Homo sapiens: one gene and its partners. The protein of the gene in region 1 interacts with the protein of each later gene in a pairwise test. Each region holds a gene or a part of one and is shown on either strand. Other genes may lie near its edges.

What was found. Proteins that work in one complex are often made in the same cells at the same time.
Region 2: the proteins of USP54 (region 1) and SS18L1 interact in binary tests that used the Homo sapiens proteins (3 or more experiments, as listed by UniProt).
Region 3: the proteins of USP54 (region 1) and KCTD9 interact in binary tests that used the Homo sapiens proteins (3 or more experiments, as listed by UniProt).
Region 4: the proteins of USP54 (region 1) and DTX2 interact in binary tests that used the Homo sapiens proteins (3 or more experiments, as listed by UniProt).

What each region holds. Positions count from the first base shown.
Region 1 is NC_000010.11:73,510,657-73,515,608, forward strand, and holds part of USP54 (ubiquitin carboxyl-terminal hydrolase 54), read right to left. Parts: intron 1-4,952.
Region 2 is NC_000020.11:62,174,030-62,178,981, forward strand, and holds part of SS18L1 (calcium-responsive transactivator), read left to right. Parts: intron 1-487; coding exon 488-615; coding exon of another isoform or gene 616-702; exon of another isoform or gene 703-2,289; intron 2,290-4,952. UniProt on the Homo sapiens protein: Transcriptional activator which is required for calcium-dependent dendritic growth and branching in cortical neurons. Recruits CREB-binding protein (CREBBP) to nuclear bodies.
Region 3 is NC_000008.11:25,430,221-25,435,172, forward strand, and holds part of KCTD9 (BTB/POZ domain-containing protein KCTD9), read right to left. Parts: intron 3,216-4,952; coding exon 3,110-3,215; intron 2,434-3,109; coding exon of another isoform or gene 2,418-2,433; coding exon 2,284-2,417; intron 1-2,283. UniProt on the Homo sapiens protein: Substrate-specific adapter of a BCR (BTB-CUL3-RBX1) E3 ubiquitin-protein ligase complex, which mediates the ubiquitination of target proteins, leading to their degradation by the proteasome.
Region 4 is NC_000007.14:76,495,470-76,500,421, reverse strand, and holds part of DTX2 (probable E3 ubiquitin-protein ligase DTX2), read right to left. Parts: intron 3,086-4,952; coding exon 2,945-3,085; intron 1-2,944. UniProt on the Homo sapiens protein: Regulator of Notch signaling, a signaling pathway involved in cell-cell communications that regulates a broad spectrum of cell-fate determinations.

The DNA.
Region 1 (4,952 bases):
CAGGCTGGTCTCAAACTCCTGACCTCAAGTGATCCATCCACTTTGGCCTCCCAAAGTGCTGGGATTACAGGTGTGAGTCACTGTGCCCGGCCTACTCTTATTCTTTACTTTTGAATATATTTGAAATTTCCCATAACAAAAGTTAATTTTTTATTTTTTAGATATCTATAAGATGATGTCTGCCCAAGTTCAAAGTACAATGAAATTCAGAATATAGGTCAAGAGCAGTGTTTATATAACACTTTAGGAACTACGATTATGTCAAAATTAATCTGGTTACAAAAGACCACATACTGCATGATTCCATTTATATGAAATGTCCAGAACAGGCAAATCTCTAGAGAAAGAAAATAGATTAGTGGTTGCCTGGGGTTGGGGGAAGAAAAGGAGGAGATAAAGAGTGATTTGCCAACGGGTACAAAGTTTCTGATGAAAACACCTTTTTTTTTTTTTTTTTTTTGAGACAGGGTCTCCCTCTGTTGCCCAGGCTGAAGTGCAGCGGCACAATCTCAGCTCACTGCAACCTCTGCCTCCTGGGTTCAAACGATTCTCCCACCTCAAATGAAAACACTTTAAAACTGATTGTGGTGATGGATGGAGAACTCTGATATAATAAAACCCATTGTATTGTACACTTTAAATAGGTGAAATGTATGGCATGTAAATTACATATCAATAAAGCATTTTTTTTTTTTTAGCATTTTTTGAAAAACTAATTTGGTGGCCGGGCGTGGTGGCTCACACCTGTAATCCCAGCACTTTGGGAAGCTGAGGCAGGTGGATTGCTTGAGCTCAGAGTTTGAGACCAGCCTGGGCAACATGGTGAAACCCCGTCTCTACAAAATATACAAAAATTAGTCAGGTGTGGTGGCACATGCCTGTAATCCCAGCTACTTGGGAGGCTGAAGCACGAGAATCGCTTGAACCTGGGAGACGGAGGTTGCAGTGAGCTGAGGTTGTGCCACTGCACTCCAGCCTGGGCAACAGAGCGAGACTCTGTCTCAAAAAATAAATAAATTTTAAAAAGTAATGTAATTTGGTGCTTAATAAATGTTTTACAATAAGATAAAGAACTCTCAAATTATATTTTTTCTTTTTTTTTTTTGAGACAGTTTCACTCTTGTCACCCAGGCTGGAGTGCAGTGGCGTGATCTCGGCTCACTGCAACCTCCATCTCCTGGGTTCAAGCAATTCTCCTGCCTCAGCCTCCCGAGTAGCTGGGATTACAGGCACGTGCCACAATACCCGGCTAATTTTTTTTGTATTTTTAGTAGAGATGGGGTTTCACCACGTTGGTCAGGCTGGTCTCGAACTCCTGACCTCAGGTGATCCACCCGACTCAGCCTCCCAAAGTGCTGGGATTACAGGCGTGAGCCACCGCACCTGGCCAAATTATATTTTTTCATATGTGAATCCTAATTGGCATTTTCCTTCATCTACTTCCCAATTAATTCTATCTGATCACTTCTTTATTCTATGTCATATCACTCCTCTTTTTTTTGAGACAGGGTCTTGTTCTGTTGCTCAGGCTGGAGCGCAGTAGCATGACCACAGCTCGCCGCAGCCTCAACCTCCCAGTCTCAGTTGATCCTCCTGCTTCAGCCTCCCAAGTAGCTGGACTACTGACCCGCACCACCACACCCAGCTAATTTTCTCAGTCTTTGTAGAGATGGGGATCTTACTGTGTTGCCCAGCTGGTCTTGAACTCCTGGGCTCAAGTGATCCTCACACCTTGGCTTCTCAAAGTGCTGGTATTACAGGTGTGAGCCACTGCACCCAGCCTGTCATGTCACTTCTTAAGGACTCAGTTTTTAAACCAAGGACTCTAACAAAAATAAAGACTAGTTTGATTTTACTTTTTTTTTTTAAGAGATAGGGTCTCACTGTGTTGCCCAGGCTGGAGGAGAGTGGCTGTTCACAGGCATGTGCTCATAGCACACTACAGCCTGAAGCTCCTGGCCTCAAGTGATTTTCCTGCCTCAGTCTCCCAAGTAGCTGGGGTTACAGGCATGAGTCATCATGCTCCGCTTGATTTGATAAATATATTGAGAATAGATTGACTACTAGATAGATTTTTAAAAATTTGTTTCTTTACACTACTAGACAAAAAAATTAATGGTCAGTAAGTACTCTTTCATACTGTTTTCAGAAGTATAGTCTTCTTCAAAGCTAACTGGCCAGTATGTATCAATATTTTTTTTAAGTTTATAACATTCAAATTAGTCAGGTATGGTAGTGCATGCCTGTAGTCCCAACTACTCAAGGGGCTGAGGTGGGAGGATCTCTTGAGCCAAGAAGGTCAAGGCTACAGTGAGCTGTGATCATGTCACTGCACTCCAGCCAAGACAACAACATGAGACCCTGTCTCAAAAATGAAAAAAAAAAAGTTTATAACATTCAACTAGTTATTAGTCTTCTAAAAGGTTATTCTAAGGAGCTCATGAGAAACGTGACCACTTAAGTGCAAAGATATTCAACACAGTACTATGTTATTAAAAATTACAAGTAAGCCAGGAGCGGTGGCTCACCTTATAGTCACTTCTCACTTTATAGTCCCAGCACTTTGGGAGGCTGACGCAGGCGGATTACTTGAGGCCAGGAGTTCGAGACCAGCCTGGCCAACATGGTGAAACCCCTTCTCTACTAAAAATACAAAAAATTAGCCAGGCTTGGTGGCACACGCCTATGGTTCCAGCTACTCGGGAGGCTGAGGCAGAAGAATTGCTTGAACCCGGGAGGCGGAGGTTGCAGTGAGCCAAGGTTGTGCAACTGTACTCCAGCCTGGATGACAGAGCGAGACTGCCTCAAAAAAAAAAAAAAAATTGTAAGTAACCTAAATATTCAACAATAGTAGGATGGTTGAAGAAATAAATTACAGTACATTCATATGAAACACTTTATAACCATTAAAGGTAGTTTTTACAGCAAATGCTCACAGATATAACATGAGAAAGTCATGATACTAAACTGTATACATATAGTGTAAAGGATACTGCTTTTTGCAAAAACAAAACTATATAGTACATGTGTATAAAAATGAAAACCAAAGGTAAGCTTATGAAAACATTAAGAGTGAGATTATCAGTGATTTTTGATACTTTATGTATTTTCAAACTACCTGCAATGAAAAATGTTGCTATTTTGGGTAATACAAATTTTTTTTTGTTTTTGGTTTTGAGATAGAGTCTTGGTCTGTCGCCCAGGTTAGAATGCAGTGGCACAATCTCAGTTCACTGCAACCTCCACCTCCTGGGTTCAAGCAATTCTCCTGCCATCAGCCCCCCAAATAGCTGGGATTACAGGTGCCCGCCACCATGCCCAGCTAATTTTTTGTATTTATAATAGAGACAGGGTCTCACCATGTTGGCCAGGCTGGTCTTGAACTCCTGACCTTGGGTGATCCACCTGCCTCGGCCTCCCAAAATGCTGGGATCACAGGTGTGGGCCACCGTGCCCAGCTAATTTTTTTGTGTGTATTTTTAGTAGAGACGGGGTTTCATCATGTTAGCCAGGATGGTCTCAATCTCCTGACCTCATGATCCGCCCACCTCCGCCTCCCAAGTGCTGGGATTACAGGCATGAGCCACCATGCCTGGCCTTATTATTCTTAAAATAATTACTTGTGGCCTGGCACGGTGGCTCACGTGTATAATCCCTGCACTTTGGGAGGCCAAGGCGAGTGGATCACTTGAGGTTAGGGCTTCGAGATGAGCCTGGCCAACATGGTGAACCCCATCTCTACTAAAAATATAAAAATTAGCTGGGCGTGGTGGCACACACCTGTAATCCCAGCTACTCGGGAGGCTGAGGCAGGAGAAGTGGCCTGAACCCAGGAGGCAGAGGTTGCAGTGAGCTGAGATCACGTCACTGCACTCCAGCCTGGGCAACAGAGCGAGACTCTGTCTCAAAAAAAAAAAAAAATTATTTGTGTATTCTTGCTTCCTTAGATAGAAAGCTCACTGAGGCAGACTCCAGCTTTCCCTTATTCTTTAGATTCTTCCCATATCAACCAGTCCTATCAAAGACCACCTTAGTAAATGTTATTGTAAAATCTACATTAGGATACGGATCCTCAGAAATGTATCTTAATATCAAGTCTTAGGACAGGCACGGTGGCTCACACCTTTAATCCCAGCACTTTGGGAGGCTGAGGCGGGGGGATCACCTGAGGTCAGGAGTTCAAGACCAGCCTGGCCAACGTGGTGAAACCCTGTCTCTACTAAAAATACAAGAGTTAGCCAGGTGTGGTGGTGGACGCCTGTAATCTCAGCTACTTGGGAGGCTGAGGCAGGAGAATCACTTGAACCCGGGAGGCGGAGGTTGCAGTGAGCTGAGATCACGCCATTGCACTCCAGCCTGGGCAACAGGAGTGCAACTCTTCTCAGAAAAAAAAAAAAATGAATAAAAAATCAAATCTTATATTTATGTGGTATTCCCCTCAAAGGCTCTGGAGAACACAGTAAGTACTCAATAAACACTTACTCAACTGTAATTATATGTTGGTTGTCAGCATGCAAGGAACCTGCACCATTACAGAAACTGTCACAGCCAAGCTAAGGAAAAGTTCTCCAAGTTCAATTTCACAGAATCATACATGCCATTTTAGAGTTAGAACATATCTTTTTTTAAAAAAAAAGCCAGTTCTCTCATTTTACAGGTAAAACCTTGGCCCTGGGATATTAAGTGACTTGTCCAAATTTATACTGAGAGTTAATGTTGGAATCAGGAAAATAGTTCAGGCTTTGGAGTTAAGTGCATCAATGTAAGTTACAAACATTCTTCATGTCTTCAATTTCCAGAACTGACTATGATGTGCACTTCAGGTGCAGGCTCTACTCTTCACTCTGTATTATCTCAGTCAGTGGCTACCCTGTAGGCATATAGTACATTAAAAATTCCTTGAACACCAAACTTGACTTTTCCTAAAGGGATCAGGAAGGTCTTGATATTGC
Region 2 (4,952 bases), on another chromosome or scaffold:
AAAAATTGGCCTCTATCAGTTCTTGCCGGAGCCTTTGACTTAGCCTTCCTAGAGACGATGTCTCTGTCTCACCTGCCTGCAGGTTTTCAGCAGCTCCCGTGGTAGTTCAGTGACAAGTTACAGCAGCCAGTGTGACTGGGGCCAGCGGGTTCTGGAGGGCTGTCCTGCCTTCAGGTAGCAGCAGTTCTGGGGTGATGGAGAGAGCCCATCAGCCCTCGCCATGCTGGTGGGGGGCCTGGGGCACAGTCCTGGGACCTCACAGGACTGGAGGGGCTGGTGAGTCGGTTACGTGGTGCTCTCGCTGTACAGAGTTAACGTGGAGCCACGTGCAGGTGCCAGGTGTTCTGGAGATTGACAAAAGGCTGATGCATTGAGACGGGAATTTTTCAAGGAGAAGAGGAAGTTTTAAAAAAAATTTTTAAGTTAAGAAAAAAAAAGAAAGAGGTGTCCGTTTTGGCCGGCCTCACGGTTCCTGGTGTCTTCTCAGGGTCTGCCCAGGGAGCCCCGTCACAGTACCCCGGCTACCAGCAAGGCCAAGGCCAGCAGTACGGAAGCTACCGAGCACCGCAGACAGCGCCGTCTGCCCAGCAGCAGCGGCCCTACGGCTATGAACAGGCAAGCTTTCTGGATGTTTCCAGATGTGCCCATCCGCCGCGCCTGTCGAGACATAATGAAGATTTCTCTTATGGCCATGAGGAATAATGAGCTGGAACTAACTGGCTTCCAGGGTTCCTTCCAGAACGTTAAGTCTCTGAGCCTGTAAGGTTTTGCAGAATTGCCTCTGTGTATACGCTCACCTCAGTCATCCAGCTGGCTTTTCATACCCTAAGCTCACCGTTAGATCTGCACGCCTGGTTCTCACATTCATTCACTCTGCCAGTGTTTGTCACGTACTGGGTACGCGTCCGGTCTCTGCTGAGTGCTTGGTGTGTGGCCGCGACACGAACCCTGCACTTTTAGAGCTTATGTCTCGCTACAGAGACATAAGGTGGTCCCACAGGGCCAGACTGTGCTGAGGACAGAGCGGGGGGCCCCAAATGGAGCCCGCCTTCCAGATGGGGGCGCAGGCGACCGCATTTGGCCCGTGTGGGCAATTCCAGGACGAAGACACAGCGGGGAGTGGCTGGCAGCCCCAGGCTCAGCCTAGGGAGGGGGAAGCCCTTTCTGCCCAGGAACAGTGAGCAGGGCTTTGAAGGAGCTGAGGAAAGAGCAGCTTGGAAGATGGAAGAGCGGGAGCTCTCGGGACAGTGAGGAGGCCGGTGTGGCGGGAGGTGACAGGGACAGGTGGGCGTAGGGGCCTCCATAAAGCAGACATCGCTTTCCCTCTGAGTGGGATGGGGCCCCTGGAGGAGGACAGGGTCTGTGTGGTGGGAGCACTGCAGGAGCGAGGGCCTCCTAGAGGAGAATGAGCCAGGCAAGGGAAGAGGGCGTGCCAAGGTCCTGAGGCACCAGGAGGTTTGTCCCAGTGAAGGCAGCCTGAAGGAGGCTCGGTGGCTGGAGCACAGGGCATATGAAGGAGAATGGTCTGGGACATTTTTTGGAGCCTCCTTTGAGAGAGTCCTTAGCAGGAAGTGGCTCTGTGTTGGTGACTCTGAGGTGGCTGGAGGTGTTAGGGACACTTTACACTGCCAGTGAAATTTCAAAGCACTACATCGCTCAAGTTTGTTTTTCTCAGGGAATTGGGTAGGTAAGAGGCCAAAGACTGTTTTTTAAATGCTTCTCGTCCTCCTTCTTCAAGAGGGCAAAGGGTCACCAGGTAGATGTAGAGAAGCCTAAAGACCATGTAACACAGTCTCCCTGCCAGGGCACCGTACTCGGCCATGCCTGGGAAGGGCACGCTGATGAGGCATTTACACAGATGTCAGGAGGGCTCTGGTGTGCTCTCAGGACACTGTGAGGCCACTGTAGCCGACGCAGGGGCCGCCTCTCCCCAGTGTGTGCTGGGCGCTGGTCAGCGGGGAGCAGGCCCCAGCTTGGCCCTCCAGGTTTGCACAGGAGTGTCATGCTGGAGTCTGGAAGGACAGCAGTCTGCATCCTGATGTTAAATTAGAATTATATGTGAATGATTCTGATGAGACGCCATACCTCCTTCATACAGTCCTGAAAATAACTTATTTGGATTTTGTGAAATAAGTGAATGTCCTAACTTAATTATAAGACTGAACCAGAGGACATATAACTTTATACCTACCTATGAAAAGACCGTGACCGGTCGTGGTGGCCCATGCCTGTAATCCCAGCACTTTGGGAGGCCAAGGCAGGAGGATCACTAGAGCCCAGGAGTTTGAGACCAGCCAGGGTAACATAGCAAGACCTGTCTCTACAAAAAATAAAGTAGTCAGGCATGGTGGTGCATGCCTGTAATCCCAGCTACTTGGAAGGCTGAGGCACGAGGATCCCTTGAGCCCAGGAGGTCGAGGCTGTAGTGAGTCGTGATTGCACCATTACACTCCAGCCTGGGCTACAGAGAGCGAGACTTTGTCTTAAAAAAAGGAAAAAGAAAGGCCAGGCGTGGGGGCTTACACCTGTAATTCCAGCACTTTGGGAGGCTGAGGCGGGTAGATCACCTGCAGTCAGGAGTTGGAGAGCAGCCTGGCCAACATGGTGAAACCCCATCTCTGCTAAAAATACAAAAATTAGCCGGGTGCCTGTAAGCCCAGCTATTGGGGAAGCTGAGGTGGGAGAATCGCTTGAACCGGGAAGGCAGAGGTGAGTTGAGATCACGCCACTGCACCCCAGCCTGGGCGACAGAGAGACTCCATCTCAAAAAAAAGAAAAAGACACAGAGCAATGGGGAAGATAGAGAATAGAATTTCACATCTGGGGGGAAATGTGTCCATCTAACTGCAAAATATTAAGATAGCCTTTAGTCAGCATCCAGTGTAGCTGGCCGTGGCGCTTTGGCACAGCACTGCCGGCGCTGGGCGTCTCCTAGGGGCCATTGTGCACACTGTGTTATGTTTGCAGCACCCCTGGCCTCCACCACGATGCCAGTAGCACCCCCATTGCCCAGTCTGACAATTTAAAATGACTCCAGACATTGTCAGATGCCCCAGGGGCAAAACTGTCTCCGTTTGAGAACCACTGGGCTACACTTAAACATGTGCTGAGGCGGCCAGGCGCTGTGGCTCACGCCTATAGCACTTTGGAAAGCAGAGGCGGGCGGGAGCAGATAGAGACGGAGGTTGCAGTGAGCTGAGATCGCGCCATTGTATTCCAGCATGGGCAACAAGAGCGAAACTCTGTCTCAAAAAAAAAAAAAAGGTGCTGAGGCATTGGGGCTGCCAGTGGTTTTATAGGGCTCCAGGGCTGCCATGCCTTCAGCTGAGCAGCTCTGGATTTGAGGCTTTCCGTCTTACCCAATGGTGCAGGAGCAGAAAGACATCAGAACAGACTCCCACTAACTAGAATCATCACAGGCAGCTCTGGGAATGAGAATGTGACGTGTTCGGTCAGGCTGGAACAGCTTTCCTCCCTCCCCCACTTCCTCGCTGGGGGCATTCGGGAAATCTGATCATTAACTAGCTGGGGACACATGGAGAACAGGCATGCAGATGATGATCCGTTGTCTTCCCCTGTGGCAGTCTCCCGAGTGGCTTTCACCACAGGTCCGATGCTCCGTTTTGCTGCCCAAGGAATTCTGCCTTGTGGCCTTGTGGGGCACAGGCTCTCTAGTTTCTCTTCTTCATGTTGTTTTTTGTTGTTGTTTTTGAGATGGAGTCTTGCTCTGTTGCCCAGGCTGGAGTGCAGTGGCACGATCTCGCTCACTGCAGCCTCTGCCTCTCGGGTTCTAGCAATTCTCCTGCCTCAGCATCCGGAGTAGCTGGGATTACAAGCACGTACTATCACACCTGGCTAATTTTTGTATTTTTAGTAGAGACAGGGTTTCGCCATGTTGGCCAGGGTGGTCTCGAGCTCCTGACCTCAGGTGATCCTTCCAAAGTGCTGGGACTGTAATCCTACAGGCATGAGCCACTGTGCCTGGCCTTTTTTTTTTTTTTTTTTTTTAAGACAGGGTCTCACTCTGTCGCCCAGGCTGGAGTGCATTGGCAGGAACATGGCTCACCGCAGCCTCAACCTCCGGGGCATGCGCCACAACATGTGGCTTATTCTTTTTTTTTTTTTTTTTTTTTTTGAGACAAGGTCTCACTCTGTCACCCACACTGGAATACAGTGGCATGATCTCGGTTCACTGCAACCTCCACCTCTCAGGCCCAGTGATTCTCCTGCCTCAGCCTCCCAAGTAGCTGGGATTACAGGCACGTGCCACTACCACCTGGCTAATTTTTTTTTTTGTATTTTTAGTAGAGATGGGGTTTCACCATGTTGGCCAGGCTGGTCTTGAACTCCTGACCTCAAATGATCCACCCACCTCGGCCTCCCAAAGTGCTGGGATTGCAGGCGTGAGCCACTGTGCCTGGCCGAGGCTAATTTTTTCTCTTTTTTTGTAGAGATGGGGTCTTGCTGTACTGCCCAGGCTGGTCTCAAACTCCTGGGCTCAAGCAGTCCTCCTGCCTCGGCCTCCCAAATTCAGATTTGTTTTTGAAACAGGGTCTCACCCAGACTAGAGTGCAGTGGTGCAATCACGGCTCACTGCAGCCTTGACCTCCTGGGCTCAAGCGATCCTCCCACCTCACCCTCCAAGTATCTGGGACTATTGGCACACGCCACCACACCCAGCTAATATTTGGATTTTTGTAGAGATGGAGTCTGGCCATGTTGCCCAGCCTGGGTCTTTAGATTTTTTTTTATAGATTGAAACCCATCACCCTGGTCGTCCCCGCTCCCATTTTCTTACTGTAGCAGGCTCGGGGGCAGATGGTGTTTGCATTGGCTCCCAGTGGGGCCAGCTTGGAGGAGAGCCTTCCTGCATAGCAGGCCCAGCATAAGGCTCTGATGCCAGGCCTGGCACAGGCCCGGCCGCAGCGATGCCAGTGTGTGACTGAACAAAT
Region 3 (4,952 bases), on another chromosome or scaffold:
GTTCTTGCATATTTTATAAGGAGACATTGAAAACAGGGGTCCCCAACCCCTGGGCCACAGACTGATACTGGTCCATGGCCTGTTAAGAATCAGGCCACACAGCAGGAGGTCACCAGTAGATGAAGCTTCATCTGTATTTACAGCCAGTCCCTGTATGGCTCAAGTTACAGCCTGAGCTCCACCTCCTGTCAGATCAGCAGGGGCATTAGATTCGCACAGGAGCGTGAACCCTATTGTGAACTGCACATGTGAGGGATCTAGGTGGGGTACTCCTCATGAGAATCTAATGCCTGATGATCTGTCACTGTCTCCAACACCCCCAGATGGGACTGTCTAGTTGCAAGAAAACAAACTCAGGGCTCCCACTGATTCTACATTATGGTGAGTTATATAATTATTTCATTATGTATTACAATGTAATACTAGTAGAAATAAAGTGCACAATAAATGTAACGCGCTTGAATCATCCCAAAACCAGCCCCCGACTCTGATCTGTGAAAATATTTTCTTCCACAAAACCAGTCCCTGGTGCCAAAAAGGTTGGGGACCACTGATTTAAAATACAGAATGGATTCCAACATAATAAATACACACACACACACACACACACACACACACACACAATTTTTTTTTTGAAACGGAGTTTTGCTCTTGTTGCCCAGGCTGGAGTGCAATCTCGGCTCACTGCAACCTCCACCTCCAGGATTCGAGCTATTCTCCTGCCTCAGCTTCCAGAGTAGCTGGGGTTACAGGCACTCACCACCACGCCTGGCTAATTTTTTCTATTTTTAGTAGAGACGGGGTTTCACCATGTTGGCCAGGCTGGTCTCAAACTCCTAACCTCAAGTGATTCGCCCACCTTGGCCTCCCAAAATGCTGGGGTTACAGGCATGAGCCACTGCGCCTGGCCCCAAAGTAATAAATATTATCAAAACAATTTTACTATGATCCAAGAACAACAACAACAAAAGGAATGAGATGGGGGGAAGACTTTTTTTTTAATCTGAAAAGATTTTACTTAATCAAATTGTGTAATAGATTTTTCCATTCCCTAGCCCTAGTATTTTTATAGCAAGGAACTGCCCTTCTTTTTAAAGCCCCAAAGGTACGTATATAATACAGTGAGTTTGACAGATGTACAGAACAGTGTAACCACCGCAATTTGAAGCTATTTCTTAATTTGTCTTGAGATCACGGAGCAATAAGATAGAGATTCCACTTAAGTCCCTGGATATGATAGGGGACAATGGTTAGAGAGAAGGGTGACTAAACGTAACCTGTTAGGAGAACAAATGTCAGCAGCTCTCCCCTCAATAGTCAACCTGATCAGTCTTTGCAATCAGAGAGAGGGAGGCTTTTGCTGCTAGGCCACACTGAGTACACAGTACTAAAACCAAGGAAAAAAATATAATCTTAGGTGAAAGTAATGTAACAAACAATAAATAATTGTGCTCGTGATAGGATTATACTTAGGCCAATTCTTTTTGCCTTGAAGTTGAAAGGGGCCTGCTACTCTGCTACCGAGAGCTATCAAGATATCTAGGCAAAAATATTATGAAAAAACATTAACAGCAAGCTAAATTTTGACATACCGTTCTCTGCTATCCAATTTATACCAGATTTCATAGCTACCAGCCACATGTGGCTACTTAAATTTAAATGAATTAAAATTAAATAAAATTTAAAAATCAATTTCTCATTTGCACTAGCCAAATCTCAAGCGCTCAATAGCTATATATGGGTGGTAGCTACTATACTGAACAGCACAGATATAGAACATGTCCCTCCTGCACAAAGTGCTATTGGATAGTGCTGATATAGACCTATCAACAGCTATCAAGTCTGCTAGCTAAACTGGCAAATTAAGAAGACATACAAATATAATTCTTTGAAAAAGATGACCAGGCAAAATTATAATCTCAAGCTGAAAACCAAAAAACATATGGTTCCAATTTCAAATAGACTTTTCCTGAACCTGATTTCAAACCTGGATATCATTTAAATTTCTCAAGTAGTTTAAGAAGTAATCTAGCCCATTTAATTCTATTCGGAATTAAATTTTATGGAAAATGCAATACATTAGATAACACATCTATCAAACTTATTTACTTGAGAAAAACTCAAGGAAAAGGAGAGAAATGAAATCAACTTAGACTGAATGTCAGATGAGTCTTCCAATCCAGTTTTACCAGCCAACTACTTTGTTTTGATTTCAATAAATTTTGCATGAGATGCTTAGTAAGTCTAGAGTAATAAAAATTCTTAAAGTGTTGGTGAACTCACCTCTAAATCAGTTCCTGCCAGAGTTGCTCCTCTGAGGTTACAGTTCTTCAACTTTGCATTTTTTAAGGTAGCCACTCTCAGGTTAATTCCTGTCATCTGACTTCCTTCCATATCCACACCTTTCAGATTAGCACCTACAGTGAACACATTCTGGGAGTAGTTTAACTTAAAAATATAGTTATCTACCTTCAACAGAACTGCAAGATGACTTAATGGAGGCCTCTTTTAACTTTTGGAAATTAATCTAAAATCTTGTCTCTCAACGAACTTATATATATAAACAGTTTACTGATGAAAGAATGCTTTCACAATACTTTTGAGGGAAGAAATTTAGTTCTGTCTTATGATAGTTAGCACTTTCATAATATGCCTCTACAGGTTTATGATAAGGGAGTGAAGTAGTCTCCTAAATATACAAGTAAACAAAGTGATCAGTCACAGATAGTAACAAATTAAGAAACAATACATTAAATCTAAAAATGATTTTTAAAAACTCCCTGGCTTTATGCAAATGAAATTTTTCCTTTTGGTCAGTGTAAGAATATTTTATTCCATTTGAAAGTTTAAGATGTTGATATTTAATTTTCCAACTAAAACCTTATTAAATATTTGAGGTTTTATTTTTTCTGAGTCCTCAATTTTGATTAGCATTTGACTGAAACCAAATGGAGGTTTCTTACCACTTTGGAAGTTCTCCAAATATGATGACAGAAGAAACCTATCCCCTACAGCTATCCTGTTTCACCCTTAACAATTATTTTCCAGGGCTTTTTTCCTTTACAGTCTGCTTCCTTCGTAGAATAGGTATTTACAGAAAGGATCTCACCTTCTAAATTGGCTTTAAGACCAGAAGGATCCTCAAAATTACACAGTTTCAGGGATGCTCCTTCTGCATTAGAACAGAGCATCTTGACTCCCTGGAGATTCGCACACTGCAAAGAAAAGAGAAAAGTCCTGGTTGTAAGGTTCATAATTTTGTTCAAATTAGCTCAAACAGTAAAAGAAAAAAAATAGAAAAGAGGGAAAGGCTCAACTCAAAACACTCATACTCAATTTTATTTTCTGTTTACAATAAAGGCTTTTCTAATTAAATACAGTAAGAACTGGGAACATTTGAAAGAAAAATTTTTTTAAAGAACTGTTTTTTAAAAAATAAATGCAAATTAACAATAGCATGCTCATTTTACATGAAACATAACGGTTTAGATAAAGAAGTTGGGTGAGTCAGAACTCTGACACCTCTATCTCTATTTTTATAAACATACCTATGCATGACAATGAAACAGTCAAAATGTATGGGTAAGGAAGGCATAGACTTGTTAGGGGTATGGATTTTCTTATTACTGTAGGAATCTTGATGTTCTAAGTGAAATTCTTGATATTCTAAGATGCTACTACTGCCCTCAAGTCAGAGGTCAGAATACAAAAGCCAGCATTTAAAGGCATTATTTAGCTAGAAAACACTAACAAGATGCTGGCTGGGTCTTTCTGCACCAACCATGGCTAAACATTATTAACCCTGAGCAGGCACATCACAATGCATAATGCAGGGCAGAGAGTAAAATGGTAGAAAATATATGTTTTAAGACTTTATTTTTTTGTTTTGTTTTGTTTGAGACAAAGTCTCACTCCGTCACCCAGGATGGAGTGCAGTGGTGCTGTCTCAGCTCACTGCAATCTCTGCCTCCCAAGTTCAAGTGATTCTCGTGCCTCAGCCTCCTGAGTAGCTTGAATTACAGGCATGCACCACCACGCCTGGCTAATTTTTGTATTTTTAGTAGAGACGGGGTTTCGCCATGTTGGCTAAGATGGTCTTGACCTCAAGTGATCTGCCTGCCTCTGCTCCCCAAAGTGCTGGGTTTACAGGCATGATCCACCACACGCAGCCAAGAGTTTTAAATTATGTTCATTTATCTCAAAGCGTTTTTGACAAACATCTTTTTTTTTTTGTCCTTAACACAAACAAAGATGCCTCTCGACATTTCACTATTTAAAGATTAGGTCCTTCAAACGTTTTTTTGATGTTAGTCTTTTTCCTGTTTTGCTACTAACCTGACCCTTCATGATAAGACAGAATAAAGGACAGTGAAAGTAACTAAAATGCATATTTGGTAGATTTTGTTACTCGCCCTGATACACAGCTTCATGGAAAAATAAGCTGCAGCTAATGAGTAAAACCCAAATTAGAGTAATTCAATAAATGACTACCAAAAGCAAGATGGTATTAATTCAAAAGACATACAGACACGGGCCTTGGTGGTAAGGAACTTAAAGTTGTTAAAAATTAATAGATTTCATTGTTGGTCTGCATATATCCTCTAACTTCAAATAAACACAGATAACTGTTATAAATACATACATATACATATATATAAATATACACATATATGTAGAGAGAGGGAAAACGCCACTGAGATGTTAACTTCCACAAACTGATGCATACCATGTTTATTTCAAAATATCTGTCAAATACTTCTTGAGCAGTAACATTTTCCCATTCCAGAAATGAGGCTGAATAGATTTCAAGGTTCCTTTCAGCTTTACCTTTACAATTAGCTGAAAATATGAGTCCTGATAAATAAAGTACAGTATATTGAGGAGATCAAGAACTAATTCCAAGATTTAATTTCTTATTAGTTACTAAACCTTTCAAGTCTATGTTTAATAAA
Region 4 (4,952 bases), on another chromosome or scaffold:
AAGCAGCGTCCTGAGGAGCACAGGCTGGAGAGGAGGCCAGAGGGCGAGGAAGGGAAGGAAGAGGTCTAAGCTGCCAGGAGGAAATGCGAGAGGGGCCCAGACAGGGAGGCCAGTGTGCGGGACGGGAGAGCTCAGCGCCAGGCACAGAGCCCCGAGCTCCGTCGGGCAAAGCCTTCCCCAGTCCCACCGTCCGGGGACCCGGCTCAGCCCCAGGAGCCATGGAGGATGCAGAAGAGCAGAAACAGCAGCACAGTCTCCTGGGAGCCGCATCCCCGCGCACATTGAGTGAGGAACCGACCCCGGCGCTTCTGAGGCTGCGCGGAAGAGTCAGACAGCCGCTTCGGGCACAAACTACTCCAGGGGGCGTTGTGGCACCACGATTTGATTCAACTTGCATTACCCTGGCATGAACATCACAGGGACAAGGGAGTCTGGGGTCCAGCATGTACAGGCAGCTGCACACACGCCGACCGCCACACAGACACTGTCCCGGGAAACGCCTGCCACTGACTGGGAAGGTCTGTCACATGCAGACTAGCTCCTAAGTCCAGCGACTCTGGGGAGGGGCCAAGACGTGGCAGGAGCCCACCCTGACGGCCTCACTCGCTGTCTGTGCACACGTGCACGAAGCTGGAGGGAGAAGGGCTGCATCTCCATAAACACCGAACCCCACATCCAGTAAAGCCTCTCCTACGGACAAGAAGCTCCTGAGCTGGTGAGGATCGGCGCGGCCCGGGGCGTTCTCTAGGTAGTGGGAGTAGCAGAACCACAGAAGCCAGCAGCCAAGCCCGTGCGGGGGTGAAAGAGGGACGGGGAGCCCAGTGCCACCCGTGGAGGCGCTCCTGACAGGGGCTCCACCCCAAGGTCATGGTGGGGCTGCGGTCGTCCCAGACTCCAGGACCAGAAGGGGCTCTGGTTTGAATCCAAGCTCACGGCCTTCAGGGGCTGCAGAGAATTCTAAGCCTGAGGGCTCACAACTGCACCTGCTGAACTCCCTTTACACCAAAAAGGGCCAGGGAGGGGACAGTTTGGCAGGGAGGTGGCGTGGTGGGGTGGAGGCTGGAGTCGGCACGGTTTGTTTAATTCTAGTTCTCTTGCTGTGAACGAATCATGCCACCTCTGAGCCTCGGTTCCCTGATCTCAAACGGGAAAGACGAATATGTAACCAAGCTGGAATTGCTGTGATGGCATGGCTGCTGTGACCTGGAGGGAAACTGCTGGCAAGACCACACCCCCCAACCCCCATCCACACACCCCACACCTCCACACCTCCTCACACCCTACACCTCCATACACCCCACACAGCTCCACACACCCCACACCTCCACACACCTCACACCTCCACACACCACACACAGCTCCACACACCCACCTCCACACACCTCACACCCCACCTCACACACCCCACACTTCTACACACCCTACACACCTCACCCCTCCACACACCTCACACCTCCATACACCCCACACACCCACCTCCATACACCCCACACCTCCACACACACTCCACACACACTCCACACCTCCATACACCCCACACCTCCACACACCCCACACACCCTCACCTCCACACACCCCACACACCCTCACCTCTACACACCCCACACACCCCACACCTCCACACACCCATACAGACTGCCCGAACCCAAATCCTGTCACGGTGGCGAGAACGCCAGACCAGAACGATGGCCCCCAGCTCAGGGTCGCCCTCCGTGTGGCTGGAATGCCCTACTCAGGCTGAGGGGGGCCTTTTCCTTTGGAAAAGCCTGCCAACTCCAGAGCCATCTCCGGGTGAGCCTGGGCCTCGCCTCTGCCCAGCCCTGGTGAGGCCGGGCACAGCATCCCACCCCCGCCCACCCACCCCAGCCCTTGCAGCTTTTCAGAGCAGAAGGGAGCTTTCCATTAGCCACGTGTCTCAGAAGGGGCCAGCCAGGCGACCCACCAAGAGCGTGTCCTTCCCAGGTAAACCCGAGTGCCACAGAAGGTTGCCAGCCCGGGCTGCCAACGAGTCTGGCTCCTCCCCCAGGGCAGGGGAAGGGCAGGGCGTGCAGAGCCCTGGGCTGGGGGCAGGAGCTCGAGGCCCACCCCTCCCTGAGCCCACCTCCTCGCCTGTGGGCTGGAGGTCGGACACGATCGGAAGCCACCCTTGCCGCATGCCAGGCGCTTCGAGTATTTCCTAGACCTCGCCAAGCCCCTCTGCTAAGCGGAGGCTCCGAGAGGACCTGCTGAGATGACACAGACACTGAGGGCCAGCAGGGCCACGGCCACCCTCCCTGCCCGCCACCACGCCCACTCAAGAGCGTCTGGACTGGCCACAGTCCACACTTCCACAGCCCAGGGGTGGAAGCAGGGCCAGCACCCGCTTGGGAAAGGTTCAGAACTTGACCATCACAGGCTGCTCCGAGCAGGTCTTGCTGTAACTCCCTGGACCTGCTGTGGTCCTAAAGCCCCTTCTTCTGTGGCCATGCAACGAGCAGGGCAGGGGTCACCGAGGGACCCCTCTCAAGCAGCCCACGTGGCGGCCACACAGGGCTGGGGGTCAGGGCAGCAGACCTGGGCAGCAGACCTGGGCCGCTGTCTGGGGGCCTTTCCCGAGACACGTGCTGGCCCTGGCGGAAGGGACGGTTGTCCCCGCATCCTGAGCCGGGCGCCGCCTCTCACCCACAACTTGTTGCTTACAAAAATCACAAAGTCCTCAAGAACAAGCCCCCTCATGCCAGCTGTGACTGGAGGAGAGGAGCTGAACTCTGGGGCTGCGGTGGAAAGTCAGCTTCCAGGGGCCGCCTCTGCTGCCGAGCGGGGGCAGGGAGAAGGGCCACTGAGCCCCTTCCCCCAGGAGTCAGGGAGCAGAGAGAAGGAAGAGGGTCTGTGCAGAAGAGTCAGAGGCAGCGAGGCCGGAAGGAGGCTTAGCAAAGGCCAGAGAGCTTTTGGGAACAAGAACTACCTTTCACGGACATTTTCCTCAATCTCTTAACTGAGCCGTGACTTTTGGAAGCCAGACGGGAGGCGGGAGGGCTGGTGGGCTGGGGTGCGCGGCTAAGACACACAGGGAGTCCAATGGCTGACATCAGAACACTCGTCATGCCTGCACGGGTGTGAGAGCAGACACGCAGAGAGGGAGAGACATTAGAAGACTCCTTCGGCATGTGACGCCAACAAACCCTGCTCAGGCCAAGGATGTGACACCATCAATGGCCACGGGGACGCACAGGTCTCCCTGGGGACTACCCAGGCCAGGAATCAGAGGGTGGGGCAGCCTGGCTCATGGTAGCCCTGGCCCCAGAGCCCACAGGTTTCTATAGGAGCAACAGACAAGCCCGTGCCCTCAGTGTGCAGGTGGGCACCGGGGCAGGACCCGTGACTTCAGGAGAGCAGAGGGCGGAGGACGCCACTCCAGGAAGCCGCCCGGGGCACGGGGTCTCCTGGGTGGGGCTGGCTCCAAGGGCTCAGCTTCCCCAGGAGGCCCTGGGCCCTCCTGGCTTGGAGTTACTAGGCCTCCAGCCTCCACTGGGTGCTGTGTGTGCTCCATGCCCCTCCTGGCTGATCTGGGTGCCAGGGCCTTCAGCGACAGCGCTGGGGTAGGCGGGCAGGAACGTGGCCCCTGGGCCTGCTCCCACACTGCAGCATCCCCATACTGTGAGGGCTGGGCTGCAGCAAGGCCCCAGGCTGTGGCTCTGGCGCCCTCGGGCAAGGGTGGGCCTGTGGCCAGCAGCTATGCTGGGACAGACCGGCCACTCTTTCCAGAGCTCACCACTGCCGGATGCCTGCAGGGAACCCCACACTTGCCCTGGGGGACTCTCCTCTGACACTGCTTCCTTCGTGCTCCCTGATGACCCAGCGCTTCCTGGGACACAGCGTGTCCTGCTGGACGAACCCGTTCCTGCCACACCCTCGGCCTACCCCACTTTCCATAGTGCCAGCTCCCCGGTCCTCCCTGTCATCGGTCAGTTAGGTCAAAAGCACCTCCTCTCCAGAGAAAGGGGAAGCCTAGAGCTTCTTAGCCATCTCTTAAGGTGGCTTCCAGGGTCTGCAGAACCTGGCTCAGGAGCTGGGCACAGCCGGCTGCCGGGGGAGTTGGTAGAAATCCCAGTCCTCCTGGACCCCACTCCCCATCCAGGAACAGATGGCGTGACTCAGGGGTGAAGGGCGGCCAGGCCAGCCACTGCGCCCCCACTAGAAGAACAAAGCTTCTCAACCCGGCACATGTGCCTGGCTGTGGGGACAGAAGCGGAGACCAGCCACCAGCCTGGGCAGCAGAGCCGAGGTGGGCAGGGTGAGTTGCAGTGGCCCTCAGCAGGAGACACCAAAGCGTGCATCAGAGGACAGAGGTTTGAGCCCGGGAGCTCAATGCCCCCAACATCCCAAGCTTGTTCCTGGGCTCAAATGCGGTTCCTGTGGGAACTGAATGTCGGGTGGAGAGAAGGACAAGCGGGCGCGGGTGGCAGAGAGATGAGAGAGGACAAGGACAGGTGCAGTTTTCCTCAAGAGAATCTGGTGCCTCTGCGCTGCCCACGTCGTCTGGGAGGACCAAAGGCCAGGACACGTCTCCCTACCCAGGGTTCTCCGGCAACACTGCCTCAGCGGGCAGGCCTTCCCTGAACACTGCCTGACGGGGCCTGTCCCTCCAAGCCTCCCGCCCCACCCTGCTGGACTCCTGCTTTGCACTCCCCTCTGTTTCTATGGACTGTCTTCCCTCAGCACGAGTTCCACGAGGTCCCACCCGTAGCTGCATCTCCAGCACCCCGCTGGGGCAGTGCCTGATCCCTGGGAAGCCTGCAGCCCTCTGTGTTTGCTGAGGAATGAAGACATCCTTGGGCCACCACCAGCCCCCAGGAGGCCGCATGAGTGACACACGTGTCCTTTTCAATGCAGGACCCACTCCCCTGAATTCAAGTCACAAACACACAAGTTTCAACCCAGAAGCCTGGAGAGGAGGAGGGCTAGGGACAGCC